Homo sapiens: one gene and its partner. The protein of the gene in region 1 interacts with the protein of each later gene in a biochemical or structural test. Each region holds a gene or a part of one and is shown on either strand. Other genes may lie near its edges.

Evidence for each region.
Region 2: the proteins of ARMC8 (region 1) and MAEA form a complex in vitro, tested with the Homo sapiens proteins (one study listed by BioGRID).

Annotation. Positions count from the first base shown.
Region 1 is NC_000003.12:138,217,939-138,225,528, reverse strand, and holds part of ARMC8 (armadillo repeat-containing protein 8), read right to left. Parts: intron 3,604-7,590; coding exon 3,532-3,603; intron 2,141-3,531; coding exon 1,998-2,140; intron 1,894-1,997; coding exon 1,796-1,893; intron 1-1,795. UniProt on the Homo sapiens protein: Component of the CTLH E3 ubiquitin-protein ligase complex that selectively accepts ubiquitin from UBE2H and mediates ubiquitination and subsequent proteasomal degradation of the transcription factor HBP1.
Region 2 is NC_000004.12:1,285,183-1,293,296, reverse strand, and holds the start of MAEA (E3 ubiquitin-protein transferase MAEA), read right to left. Parts: upstream 3,407-8,114; 5' UTR 3,384-3,406; coding exon 3,315-3,383; intron 1-3,314.

The DNA of each region.
Region 1 (7,590 bases):
GCTGTGAACTGTGAATAAGAGTGTTTAAAAATATTGGCCTAACTGTCAGTAAGAAAGCCCCATGTAAAGTGACTGTAATTTACAATAATCTATTGTATATTGAAAAATAGCTAGAAGAGGCCGGGCGCAGTGGCTCACACGCCTGTAATCCCAGCACTTTGGGAGGCCGAGGCGGGCAGATCATGAGGTCAGGAGATCCAGACCATCCTGGCCAACATGGTGAAACCCCGTCTCTACTAAAACCACAAAAATCAGCTGGGCGTGGTGGCACATGCCTGTAGGCCCAGCTGAGTAGCTCGGGAGGCTGAGGCAGGAGAATTGCTTGAACTCAGGAGGCGGAGGTTGCAGGGCCGAGATTCCTCCACTGCACTCCAGCCTCGGTGAGAGAGACACCGTCTCCAAAAAAAAAAAAAAAAAAAGCCAGAAGAAATGAATTTGGGCTGAGCACGGTGCCTCATGCCTTCCTCTCCACTTCTCTAAGTCTTATCCATTATTCAAAACCCAGATTAAATTCTAGCTTCTCTGCAAAGCCTACTCTGCTGGATTTCAACCGAAAGTCAGCTGAACTCCCTATCATTCATCTAGCGTAAAATAAACTTAAGTTCTACATATAGAGAGATAAAAATGGGTCTTTTTAAAAATAGCTTGTAAATTCCTCAAAGTCTGAGACTATCTTTCACTTTCTTACAAAGCTGAGAGCATCTGATATTTGGAAATAAGAAAGAACTCAAATACTTTTTGAGACTTTATTTATGTACTTATTTAGAGACAGTCTCTAAAAGCAGACAGTCTGCCCTGTCGCCCAGGCTGGAGTAGGGTGGTGTGATCTCAGATCACTGCAACGTCTCCTCCTGGGTTCAAGTGATTTTCATGGCTCAGCCTCCCGAGTAGCTGGTGTTGCAGGTATGTGCCACCGTGCCCGGTTAATTTCTGTAGTTTTAATAGAAATGGGAGTTTCACCGTGTTGGCCAGGCTGGTCTCGAACTCCTGGCCTCAGGTGATATATCCATCTTGAACTCCCAAACTGCTAGGATTACAGGCGTGAGCCACTGTACCCAGCGGAGACTTTTATCATTTTTTATTTTTAGTGAGAGGATCTCATTCTGTCACCTAGGCTGAGGTGCAGGGGCACCATCATAGCTTAGTATAACCTCAAACTCCTAGGCTCAAGCAATCCTTCCACTGCAGTCTCATGAGCTAGGACTATAGGCATGAGCCATTGCACCAGGCTAATTTATTTTTATTTTTTTCTTGTAGAGATGGAGTCTTGTTGTCGGGCGCAGTGGCTCACACCTGTAATCCCAGCACTTTGGGAGGCCGAGGCGGGTGGATCACAAGGTCAGGAGTTCAAGACCAGCCTGGCCAAGATGGTGAAACCCTATCTCTCCTAAAAATACAAAAAATTAGCCGGGTGTGGTGGCACGCGCCTGTAATCCAAGCTACTCCAGACGCTGAGGCAGAGAAATGCTTAAACCTGGCAGGGTGAAGGTTGCAGTGAGCCGAGATCGCGCCACTGCACTCTAGCCTGGGTGACAGAGCAAGACTCCACCTCAAAAAAAAAAAAAAAAAAAGAGATGGAGTCTTGTTATGTCACTCTGGTTGATCTTGAACTCCTGGCCTCAAGCAATCCTCCCACCTCAGCCTCCCAAAGCACTGGGATTACTGGTGTGAGCCACCATGACCAACTGAGACTTTTTTACATAACACAGTTATGATGAGTCTGAAGATGCTAAGCAAATTAGGAGTAGGCTGTTGGTGAAATGTAACTAATGTCTCAAATACATCTAAAACTCACTGTATACAGTAGCTCCTCTGGAGTGACAGGACTGGTGAAGATGGTACGCAGGCATCGGAGGCAAGCTTCAATAAACTTCAGGTCTGGGGACAGTAGTCCTATTAACAGAAATGAGATTTAGGACTAATCCTTTCAACCAGTATTTAAAGCACTGCAAACTGATTCTTAACCTTAATTGAGCAAAAATGGCTTCCCTACATACCTTGCAATAAGGCAGGGATAATATGGCAGTCCAGTAGAGACTTGACATTGTTTTCAGTACCCATAGCAAGACTTCCCAACACCACTGCACATTCAGTTTTCAGCTCTGTGCTTGAGGTTTCTTGCTGAAGCAAGTACAACAATCTAAAAAGAAGGAACTTAATAAACGAAGAGACTAAAAAATTTAAACAAGACTCAATGTGACCAAAAAAGGCTGTGCAGTCCACATACTAAAAATATGGTTGGCTGAGTTTATATGAATCCAATGGTCATTTGTTTATCTCATCTGCTAATTAAAGAAACATCTGGAAAAAAAATCTAGAAGAGGTTTTGAAAAAAAGAACTATCATATTCTTAGAGTTTATAAAAAGTGTAAATCTGAAAGTTGTCCACAGATAGTCTCTGTAGAAACAGCGTCATCAGAGTCCATGTCATCTACCACTTCCTGCTGGGTCTCCAAAATATGAAGACTCTCAAATGCCATGTGCTGCCAGATCTTAAACTCAAACTAGAAATGCTACTGCTCTGAATCCAGAGCAGTGGTGCAGTTTGTAGATATCGAGCCTATAGGGAATATTCAGAGCCCTTGTGCAGCTCCTCAAGCAAAGGTAGTTTCTTCTTTCTCCAGCTCTCTCATTTGGAAAAGGAAGAGATCCTCTCATTTCCACTCCAGCCCAGCTTGCCAAACAAATACTCCCCAAACCCTAACCTTCCTCCACTTATAACCATCTACCTTATGTTCTAAGACAGGACCCTCATGCTCCATAAAGCACTATTTATATATACCAAACATAAATCCCCTAAGAAAGGCTGCTGACAGCTTTATAGTTACTAAAGTATATGTTTGAGGTTGGTGAGTTAAAACACTTAAACCATTAATTCTGTATCAAAACCAGAAAATAAGGAGAAAAAAACAAAATAATAAATAATTCTGAATGAAAAGCTAATAGCAATTGCACAGAAAACTTAGCTCTGAGGAGCAAAAGTAAAGAGGAAGTTATGTAACTGTCATTGCCTGCCTAAAGGAAGCTTATTAGGTCATCAAAAGAAGAAATTAAACTTCCTAAACTTCTTACGTTAACTTAAAAAACAGCAAGTTGTAAAAATCAGAAGTTAAAAAATGAAACTGGATTAAAAATCAAGCAGGGTTTTTTTCCTTTAAATTCAAAAAGGTCTTAAGGCTCCTAATAAATTACCCACTCACACAAAAAACTGCCAAGGCTCTAAGGAAATGGAGAAGAAAGTATCAGGCTGTTGTACATTGCATATGTACTTTACGAACCCTTTTGTCATCAGGTCAAAGGTCTTCCTGAGTTTCCAAAATGTATTAACACATTCACTTCTTACTACATTCTCTGTTACTTTATAATTTTTTTCCTTAAAGATAGTTTAAATACTTACATTTATTTTTAAAAATAGGATTTATTTTAAGAATTAGACAGACAATACAGGAAAAATGGGTTCTATAATTGAGAGTAAGAAATACATTAGAAACTAGTATGAATGGCAAGAAAGGGGTGAGACAGCAAACATACCTTGGAACAGCTCCTAAAACAATGAGATTGGCTTTCTGCTTGTTGTTTCCAATTACAGCATTTTTCATGTCTCTGAATTAAGGGGAAGAAAAAATAAAGTATGTTGAGACAGCACTGAAGAAAAATCAAAGATCATTCTACTTCATTATGCAATATCTTAGATTTGACAAAGTAAAAGCACTAACCTTTTTTCACCTAAAGTACTAATGAAGGGATAGAGATAGGTGCAGAGTGAATGTGGGGGCTGTAAAACGGCGTATTGTAGAAAGTGAGAGATATCCTGAGTACTGGCGAAAGACTTCCAGTACAGAATTGAGTTCTTCTAGAAAGGGTACCTACCAATACTTTGGATACAAAGGAATACAGGCCACCCTCACGCTCAGCTCTAAGAGTAGGGAGTGAGTTAAACGAACAACAACAACAACAGAAAAAACAGCCCACAGAACATTAACTCCTTGTTTCAATGATCACACTTTGTTCACTTTTTTTTTTACTTCTTTATATATTATTTCTTACAATTCCATTTTATCTGCTTTATTGTCTTACTAACTGTACTCCTTTGTTATTTTCCAATGCATCTTTTAATTTATCACAGTCAGTCTTCAAGTGATATTAGCCCATTGCACATGTATTTTAAGAGCCTTGCATATGTATTTCCACTTTCCCATTCATTTTTTGGGCTGCTGTTATACAATATTTTTAAATTGCTTAGAAACAACATAATACATTGTTACTATTTTTGCTTAAGCAGCCAGTTATCTCTTAAGGCGATTTAAAAAATAACAAAGAATCTTTTACATTTCTCAGATATTCACAGTATTTTTTATTCTAGCTATACAGAGCTCTATACTTCACCAGGAGCAAAACTCTATTCCACAATAAGAGAACCTCTACCACTGATCACTTGGCTCACAAATTTGTGGTTGGTTCAAAAGGAAATGTAGAGAAAAAATAAATAGCTCAAAATAAACCCAGTACTACTAATAAAATGTTTAAAAAAACTTCCCTGGCCGGGCACGGTGACTCACACCTGTAATCCCAGCTCTTTGGGAGGCCTAGGCAGGCAGATTGCTTGAACTCAGGAGTTCAAGATCAGACTGAACAACATGGCGAAACTCCATCTCTACAAATAATACAAAAATTAGCCAGGTGTGGTGGCACGCACTTGTGGTCCCAGCTACCTGGGGGGCTAAGGTAGGAGGATCACTTCAGCTGGGGAGGTGGAGGTTGCAGTGAGCAGAGATCGCGCCACTGCACCCCAGTCAGGGTGACAGAACGAGACTCCATCTCAAAAAAAAAAAAAAGAAAAAAAAATCAACAAATAAATGTTATAGTCAGCATACATTTCTAACACCAATCATATTTACTGGCATTAAAGAACCTGGTAACGATTAACCCTTGTCTTCAATTGCCTTTTTTGATTATTGCAGAAAAATACTGCAACAACTAGTGATGTGCTAAAAGCAGATTTTCCCTACAAGTTTCTGAATGGCATTTTTACAAGTCAAGCCAAATACTGAGAATGCCTGGTCTTTCTTCCATTAGCTCAGTGCCTGAGGGTAGGGCTTTTTTTCCAGGCCTGACCTATCCCTCTGTAAAGTATCCCTCAGATCTTCTATATGGTTTACAAGAAATAAGTAGCAATTTTTTTGTTGTTGTTTATGGGACTGAACTGAATGAAGTTTACTGAGGTTGTTAGCAAGTTCTGATACATGAATATAAAACTATATGATATCAAAGGATCAATTAGCAAAGTTAAAGTTAGTAAGAGATTTCTAAGCTCCCGCATCCTCATGGATGCCTGTTTTCTTTAGAGGCTTTAGTTCCTAATCATCAGCATATGGACCTTAACCTACCAGCTTGTTGTTCACTTTCATTGTCTTCCTTTCTCTTAATGTGTTCTGCCTATACTAATGTAGAACATTCATTTATCCAGCCCCTACCTACTTAGAGTCTGTGTAGGCTAAGTGCCATTCTGAATGCTTTCTATTCCAGAACTCCCAACCCTAATATTTCCCCAGTTTTTCCTCTCCATTCTTCTTAAGCAGAAATGAGCGGTCCCTAACATTACCAAATGAACCCATTCCAAACATCTCAAACCATGCCATGTTTTTACAGACAAGAGCAAACAAAAACCTGTCCAACACCAATTTTCTAATTCTCTTAATAGTTTACAAAAAGGACATGAAGGAGGTAACTGATGGCAACAGAGGAAATGCCAACTAAAGAGAACACAATACAATGGAACAATGTCTAAAGAAAAAGATTCTCGCTTTGGCTTTAGTAAGTAAATATACCTGTGCTAGATAAGGAAAAAAAGATGTTAATAAATTCTATTCAATTGTTGCTATAAAGGAATGTTAATAGATCACTTCCATGAAGAATTAAAATCAAAAGGATTAACAGGATTAAGCAATCAATTTCAGATGACAACATTCAGCCATCTAGATGAAGCTTCTTTCAGTTCCCAGAGTGTAGTTATTCTTTCTCCGTCATCTCCTTATCCCCTCCCTCATACTTTCCCCTGACTAGCTTTACTCATCCTTCAGGTCTGAATGTCACTTCCTCAGGAAGCATGCCCTGAAACCCCCAGGTCATCACTTTGTTAGAGTAAAAGTCTATCTCCTCCTGAGAGGCAAGAAAGCCAATCTGACCTGGAAATATCAAAGCAGTTACTGTCAGTAGATCATTATTTATAGTGATTCTAGATATCCATTATTTTTGTAAAATGCAAACTCACAGCTATCATCCAAGATGGGAACACAACAACACTATCCAAGATTTCTACATTACTTTCAAATTTACAAAGCATTCCATATCCACTACTTAATTTCATCTTCATCATAATCTAGAGTAATATTAACTCCATTTTACAGAGAGAAAGCTACAACTCAGGATTGGCCTTTTTTCAGAACCCAATATTAAATGACAGAGCCAGTCTCAACCCATGTCTTTTATGCCAACTGTTTTTTCCATTATGGCCAGGACATCAGACATTGACAACGAACCAATGGAAAAGACAAATGAATTCAGTGAATTCATTTTCTTTTTCCTTCTGTGTTTTAATGTTACATTTTTATGCAAAATAAAAGTGTTTCTAACTTTTAGTCAGATACCCTTTTCCCAGTAGACCAAAAGAATGTCATCTCATGCCCACTAACTTTTAATGTTGGGAAAAATGCTCTACTTACTTTTACTGAAATTCAACAACTAGTTTTTGAGCTCAGCATTGTGCTAGCCTCTATGAAGTATACGAAAGTATCACACAATGGGATGCCTGGTCTGAGGAGTTCACAATATCCGTGGAGTGGCAAAAATAACACTATCAATGTAAGTCAGTACTAAATTAAAAACTGAATGTTTATAAGGTAAAGAAAAGTAGATGCTCAATAAGCTTAAAAGGTTTTGAGGCAATGGTTAAGAACTAAGATAAACCTTAGACAATAGTCAGGACTTGGATAAGCAGATGGGAGGACAAAAGGAGAAATCGTTCATACAAGACCATATTGGAAATGAAAATGGCATGTTCCTGGGGCAATACAAGGAGCCTGAACTGAAAAACAAGTTCGCTTTAGGGTGGCATGGAACATAAAGTTAGAAAAGTGATAGGGAGATGAGACAAACTAAAGGGAGATGGATTAAGGAGCAATCATATTTTTGATCACAGAAGGGGCATGAAGGAAGCAGTGACTAAGGAAAATAAGCTGAATGTGAAATGGAATGCTTATAATATTAGTTAAGAGGGACAACTAAGTGGCTGATGCCCCCCCTTGTGATCTCCAGACCCCTATGCTTATCTTTAACATAGCATTCATTAGGTAAACTATCATGGATGGTCTCTTTAGTTATTTGACTATTTCATTAGACTTTTGGACCCTTCAGAGCACTGACTACATTATTCACCCTTATATACCCCCATACTAGCACAATGCTTGGTACTAGGCAGGCACTCAATAAATATTTGTTGAAGGACTTAATCAATCCATCTAGGTATCTGGTTATACAAAACTGATTAGTGGAGCAGCCAAAGGAATCATTAATACAAAGGTCATTTTGAGG
Region 2 (8,114 bases), on another chromosome or scaffold:
CCTCAGCCTCCCAATTAGCTGGGACTACAGGCGCACACCACCGCACCCAACTCATCAAATTACTTTTATAATCAGAAAAAAAAAAACCTTTTACAAAATAATGAAAGCAAGGGCTTCCAATTCAAGATGGTGAACTATGCATGTTGAATTGAAAGATGGTGAATTCCTGAGGTCAGGAGTTCAAGACCAGCTGGACAACATGGAGAAACCACGTCTCTACTAAAAAATACAAAAAATTAGCTGGGCATGGTGGCGGGTGCCTGTAATCTCAGCTACTCGGGAGGCTGAGGTAGGAGAATTGCTTGAATCTGGGAGGCAGAGGTTGCAGTGAGCTGAGATTGTGCCACCGCGCTCCAGCCTGGGCAACAGAGTGAGACTCCGTCTCAAAAAAGAAAAAAAAAAAAAAAAAAGATGGTGAGTTATTCATCTTTCCCCTCCCCCACAAGGCATTACCCACCACCCTACACCGGACGGCGTTCACAGCATTTGACAGCAAAAAGACACAGCCACAGCCAGGACGCAAGGCTGAGTCCTCATGAGCCACACCTCCGTTTGGTAAGAGGAAGAAACAAGTCCCTTAAAGCAGGATCCAGCCCAGCAATTCTCAGGGGTGTGTGCATGCCCCCAGGGCACATCTAGCAATGTCTGAAGACATTTTGGGGGCATGCTCTTGGCATCTGGCAGGCAGACACCAGGGATGCTGCTAGACATCCTAGACTGCACAGCCCCCACCACCGACAAAGGCTCCTCCAGCCCAAACGTTCGCAGGCCGGTCCACCCCTTTGGTGGAAATAGAAGCTCATGACGACAGAGGTGCCCAAGGTCAGTGCGTGTTGGCTGCAGCAATTCACGTCTGTTCCATTCTCTTCCCACTTCACCAGGAAAATAGAAAAATAAGTACCTGCCAGGCACCCAGGAGCCCCACCAGCCGCCCTGACGCTGTGAGGAAGCAGACATCCCAAGTGTTACTGCTGAAACCCACCTAGGGCTACCAAGCCCTCTGAAGAGAAAGGAATCCCCTGTGAGTCTGTGGAGGACTCACATGGCAGGAAAGCAGTTTAACTATTACCAGGTGAAGATCCAGTCCAGAGCATGCCAGCTGCTACCACCCTGCAGGAGGACTTGCTCTCAGACTAGAGAAGCAGAACATCCACCCCCCACCTTCCACAACCCCGGTCCTGCAGCCCTCGGTCCCTTCTCTGACATCTGCACTGGCCCCTCCTGGAAACTGAAGAGTGCAGCTCTTGAGCTGTGAGCTCAGCATGTTCTGTTTAGTTCTATACCAATAAATGCTTCTAAATCAAGGATCCCTAGTTTCCCAGCAAAACACCTCCATTATCCACTAGGAATCACTCCTGAAAACTTCTATGAAAAAAAGTTTTAACTCAGTAGTGACACAAGTGTCAACAGAGAAATTATGACACTATAATATTTCTTTACCTGTATGACTATCTGCATGACTATTTTAATCAGAAGCTATGCAATCACTCTGGAATACAAATTACATTCACGATTACAAAACAGCAGAAGACCTGAAGAAGAATCCTTTCCGGAGACCTTCCATCTCCCTTCCTAGTTCCTTCAATACACAATGAAAGGATTTCTGGAAACTTTTCCTATCTAGTGTTTCCCACATTCACCAGCCAGTACCAGAAGTGACAAACCACCACGGTTCTGATCTTCAAACCTTCTTGTGTGTTAGCTGAAATGACAGGCCTGGAGGTGCACTGCGTGAGACAAAGTGGTCAGTGGTTAGGACTCCCTACTAATATCACCACAATGTCCTTGTATAGACTTCTCTCAGCTGCAGGGTCTCCATCTCTAAACCAACAGAGATCCACCAATGTCACTGAGTATTAAAAACCAACCACCTACATCTTGGAGGGATCTAGCAAGAGGCTAGACCTTTGGTAACGTCAGCAACATTGCCCTCCCTTCCTTGATCAAAAGAAGTGCTGGACACACAAGCACCATGAAACCCCACTGCGAAACCATTAGTGTGGCGGGCGCGTGGCTCACACCTGTCAGCCCAGCGCTTTGGGAGGTCAAAAGGCAGGAGGATCGCTTAAGTCCTGGAATCCAAAACCACCCTAGGCAACAGTGAAACCCCGTTTCTTTTTAAAAATATGAAATAAACCGCTAGTTAATAAAGAGGAGGAGAAGCTTGCTTCTGCTTTCCTATGAAGACCAGCTACAGCAGGGTACAGCCTGACTTCAGCAGCGCTAACTGTAGCAGGGACCTTTTAATGAATGCTAGGCACTGTTTGAAACAATACGTGGTCACTCATTTCACCCTGAGGTGACACAGGCGCTACCACTGCTTAAACCTGACAAGAATAAACAGTCACCAACCGGGCCCTGATGTCTCCCAGTAAGGACGAATACAGAGAAGCCTGATTCACACCCCAGCAGGATGGCTCACAGCCTGTGCTCTTCAGCCCTTCGCTGAACTGCCCTGGGGCTGGGGGAACGCACAGCAACCTGGCCATACTGCATCCTCCACACCTGTCGCCACACCGTCCGTCCTCAGACGGACGTGAACACCAGGGCGCTCTGGGAGGAGAGAGAAACTACGCAGCTCTCCAGGAAGGCAACACAGAACCACGAAGCTCAGCCGCAGCTCTAGGAAAGCTATGACCTTGATCTTTTAAGGAATTCCTTCCCAGGTGCTTCATATCAAATCCTCTACTAACTAGGTAAAGAACAAGTATCGGCTCCTTCTACTAGGAGCACAAATTTCATTCTAAGAAGTGCGACGTGGCTAGGTGACCACCCAAGGTCACGCAACCGGCAGCCGGACGGCAAGAGCTGTATTTCAGGTTTGGTGACGCCCATCAAAAAGGTCGCTGGGTGCCATCAGGCCGTGAGGTTTCTCCCTACAGTTCCTAACTAGCGACCGGCGCAGCCGGCACCTCCCAGCCCTGGGCTCCCGGGAGGGCGGCCGGGCACTGGCTGGGCACGCCGCGCACTCCGTCTGCCTGGGCGCCAGAGACCCCACGCCCCGCAAACTCCGGCTTCCACCCCAGCCCCAAATTCGCCACCCTTAGCGCTGCCAGAGTCGTCGCTGGCTCGGCTCACGCAGCTCTTCAAGCAGAGGGGCCACAGTCGGGCGCCTGGCAGGGCCAAAGCCGCCGCCCCCGCCACACCTGCCCGGCGCGGACCGGGCGCCCCTGAGAAGCCCGCACGGCCCCGCGAGGCCGCGCCCAGCTCCCGCCGCCCTCGCCGCTGGCCCTCCCGGGGCGGCCCCTCGCGGCCCGAGGGCACTGGCTGGAGACGCCTTCGCTGCCCTCAGCCTGCGCGGCGCAGGCGCCCACCTTGAGGGTCGGGTACTCCTGGACCTTCAGGGTCATGGACAACTGAGCCGCCGACTCCTGCACCGCCATCTTGAAGCGGCCAAAACATTAGCGGGCGGGGGACGCGCGAGCGCGCTGCACGCCGGGAAATGACGCCACGCGCCGGCCGGAGCAGGATGGGGGCGGGCCGATGCCCCTGCACCAATCGTATCCGCCCAGTCGGCCGGAGGCGGAAGAAGGCGCGAACCAATCACTGCCGGGTTTCCTCTCGTTCAGCCAATCAACGATAGCCCCGGCTGGCGGTTTCCACCTTGAATTCGCTACCGGGTTCAGGCCGCAGACGCCGGAGCTGGGGATGCTCCTGGCCCGGGGCGGGCCGATGGGGTGCGGGCTGCGGCCCGGGCGGGTGGAGCTGGGGCCGAGCGGGCTGGGGGACTTGGCGTCCGTCCAGTTACTTGGGGCTCCCGCGGGGTGGTCCCCTGTGGGTCCCTCGTGCCTGCGGTACCAAGGGCAACGCCAACAAAACGCCTGGCCGCATGCGCCTGTAGCCAGCTATTTTTCTTTGGCCTTATTTTGACCGATTTACAGCTGCTGGAATCCTGATGTGGAACCTCCGACTTCCCAACGGAAGAGGAAAGGCCCAGTACCTAAAACTGATTTATGGACAGAAACTCCCGAAGCATGAGAAGCGTGTGGCCTCTCCGCCCTCTCCTTGCAGGGCGGGCAGCGCTGGCATCCAGGTCGTGCGCTGCCTTCATTTCAGCCACTTCACATTCTCAGCCTTTCAAACACCACCCGTCTCCCTCCTTTCCAAAATAAAACTGAAATTAGATTTTATTAATTAGGAAATGACGTCCCAATTAAACCACCTTGTGTTTCACATAACACATTTCTAAACAACTTTTAAAATATTTGGTGTTTAAACAAAGGAAAAACATCTAAGGTGACACAGCGATGAAGGGAGAACCTCCGCTTGGAGGCTGCTACATGTTACAGCCGCAAGACATCCGACCCGCACTGTGGAATCTTTCTCTGTCTTACTTAAACAGGAGTTGGGACTAAGGAAAGTGTTATTCCTCAAGTGTGTGGCTGCAGACTCCAGTCTTTTAGACATTTGAAGTAAGTTTTACAGTGAGGTGCACAAATCTTAACTATACAGCTTTAATGAATTTTCACCCATATTTGCACTTTTATCTAACCGTGTCCTGGTTGAGATTTAGGACATTTCCCGTGGCACAGAAAGCTCCTCTGCCCCTTCCCGGGCTATATCCCCATCATTCTAACCCTGCTCCCCGTAACAGCGTTCCTGACCTTCCTATAGAGATGGAAGCATGCACTCTGTACTCTTTGCGTCCTTTCACGGTTCGCATCGTGTCTGCCACTCTCCGGGATGGTCCCAGTAGTACACAGGAGCACTGCAGCAGTTGGATGGACTGCACTCCTCTTAGAGACTGCCTTCACTTCACCAGGGATTCAAGATTAACCCAAAGGAAAGGACACGGGTTTCATTTCCATGGTAAAATGATCCTATCCTAGTACCATCTACAGTCAGAAATACTTAGGAATTATAAGGCAGAGGTTTGCACGTTGGAGAGGTTGTTTAACCCTCTACAACCTTTGAGTCATTCATTCTAGGTTTTCTTATGTTGGAAGATAAAACTGTATTTGAATTAGTCCTTTTGTAAACCAAAAAGTGTCTGAGACAGATCTCAATCAGTTTAGAAGTTTATGTTGCCAAGGTTAAGGATCATGACCAGTGACACAGCCTCAAGAGGTCCTCAGAACACATGCCCAAGGTGGTTGGGTTACAGCTTGATTTTATACGTTTTAAGGAGATGTAGGCATCAATCAGTACATGTGAGATTTACATTGGTCCGAAAAGGCAGGACAACACAAAGCACAGCGGGGCTTCCAGCTCACAGGTGGATTCAAAGATTTTCTGATTGGCATTTGGTTGAAAGAGTGCTTATCTAAAGATCTGGAATCGAGAGAAAGGAGCATCTGGGTTAAAAGGGGTTGTGGAGACCAACGTTCTTATTACATAGATGAAGCCTCATAGGTGGCCACCATTAGAAGCAATAGATGGCAAATGTTTCATATCTAGATCTTAAAAAGCTGCTAGACTTGGCCGGGTGCTGTGGCTCACGCCTGTAATCCCAGCACTTTGGGAGGCCGAGGCGGGCGGATCACGAGGTCAGAGATCAAGACTATCCTGGCCAACATGGTAAAACCCTGTCTCTACTAAAAATACAAAAATTAGCTGGATGTGGTGGCACTCACCTGTAGTCCCAGGTACTTGGGAGGCTGAGGCAGGAGAATCACTTGAACCTGGGAGGCAGAGGTTGCAGTAAGCCAAGATCACACCACTGCACTCCAGCCTGGGTGACACAGCGAGACTCCTAAAAAAAAAAAAAAAAAAAAAAAAAAACAAGAGCTGCTAGACTCTCAGTTAACCATTAACTTCTTCAGAATCAGAAAAGACCCGGAAAGGAAGGGCAAGGGATTCCCTACAGAATGTAAATTTCTCCCACAAGAGACAGCTTTGCAGGGCCCTTTCAAAATATGTCAAAGAAATATATTTTGGGGTAAAACACTTTGATTTCCTTCAAGGCCAGCTATCTGTCATGTGATGCTCTACTAGAGTCAAGTTGGAATTTGGCATCTTATTGCTACAGAGTCTGTTTTGTCAGTCTTAAGATCTCTGTTTTAATGTTAATGCTGGTAAGTTTTGTGCCTGAACTCGAAAGGGAGGAGGGGATACTGAGGCATGTCCAACTCTCCCTTCACGTTAATAGTGGCAGGAGGCAGACCGAGCAGTTACCCAGTGAAACCCGACCTTCAAGCCGAAGACAGTTTAAAGCCGACCTACAAGTCCCAGGTAAATCCATGGACTAGATTGGGAACCTGTCTTCCTGCCTGGCATGCTTTCCTCTGATTGGTCCCCACCCTTCACCTATTTTACATATACCTATCCTTCCCTAATTGGCTTTTTGTTTGTTGGTTGGTTGTTTTTTTGGTTTTTTTTTTTTTTGAGATGGAGTCTCGCTCTGTCTCCCAGGCTGGAGTGCAGTGGCACGATCTCGGCTTACTGCAAGCTCTGCCTCCCAGGTTCACGCCATTCTCCTGCCTCAGCCTCCCGAGTAGCTGGGACTACAGGCACCCGCCACCACGCCCAGCTAATTTTTTTTGTATTTTTAGTAGAGATGGGGTTTCACCGTGTTAGCCAGGATGGTGTCAATCTCCTGACCTTGTGATCCACCCACCTCAGCCTCCCAAAGTGCTAGGATTACAGGCGTGAGCCACCGCACCCAGCCCCTAATTGCTTTTTACACTGTTGTCCCCACCTTTGAGTGATGCCTTTGTTTTAGCCATTTTTGCATCCTCACAAACCAATCAGTGTGCACTCTGAGCCCATGAAAGCCCCAAACCCAGCCACATGGAGAGAGAAACCATCCGACTTCAGGTGGGGGACCACCCTCACATCCCTGCTCCACTGAGAGCTGCTTTGTCACTCAATAAAATTCTTCTCCATCCTCCTCACCCTTCAATTGTCAGTGTATCATCATTCTTCTTGGACGTGGGACAAGAGCTCAGGATGCACCAAATGTGAATACAGAGAAGGCTGTAACTCCATAACCCTTTGCCCTTCACCAGCAGAGGGCAGCCACCCCATGTGACAGAAGCAGCAGTGGGACTGAGCCAGCCCTGGAGCCATGGGCTGATGCGGGGCAAGCGGCTGACAGAGCTGTTGACGCACCACTGTCCATCAGGATGCAGACTAAAAGAGCTAATTAGCATGCTGTAACACCCCCTCTGGGGCTTCAGGATCACAGCACCCCTACCTGGGCGCCACCGTGTTCCCCTTGTCTGGACGCCGGAGTCCACCATGGGAGTGGCTTGCAACATGCCTGGTCCAGCCACAAGCCCTGCATGGAGCCTGCGTCTGTGCTGACACTTGGAACCGTTGGCTGGACCCCGCACTCACTCGCTCACACCCCCTCCCACTGGGGGCTGAGTGCACAGTCGGAACAGCCGCAAACGCTGGAGTGCGGGCCTGGCATGACATGATGGGCCAAGTGAATGGGCATCTCCTGTGGCAAACCTGGGCCTGAGCAAGGGTGTCGCTGGCTGGGGGTCTCTGGCTGACAAGTGACCAAGAAAAGTCATGCGCCGCCATCGTGTCCTGAACTGATTTTTCAGGTTTCTTTGAAACCCCCTTGGCTGAAGGTGGGGGTAGGGGGTTCCATTCAGTCAGTTGGGGGAGCTTAGTATCTTATTTTTGGTTTATATAACTTGAAATTGTCCAGCTGTCAGACTCTGCCACCAACTGGCTATCCTACAATCCAACCCCATTCACACTCACTCGCAGAGTTAGCACAGACCCCACAGGCCAAGGGCTCCGTTCCACAAGGCTGTCCCCACTCCAGGTGACGGCTGCACATGGGGTGCCCAGGCCACCCACAAGGCAGATGACACATTTGGGGCTCCCACAAACCCTTCCTCAGGTTCAATAATTTGCTAGAATGACTCACAGAGCTCAGGAAACACTTAATGCTTCCCAGCTTATTATGAAGGACACAGCTCAGGAATAGCTAACGGGAGTGCATCGGGCATGGTGGGGCGAGGAGCTCCCAAGCCTTCTCTGCGCGGCAGCCGCTCAGCACTTCGGGGCATCCACCAGCCAGGAGGCTCTCCTGAATCTCATTATTCACACATTTTCATATCTCAATCCCCAGCCCCCCTCATCCCCAGAGGTGGAGGTGGAGTGGGAGAGGGGCTGAGAATTCCTGCCAACCAATCTCCGGGTCTTTCTAGTGATAT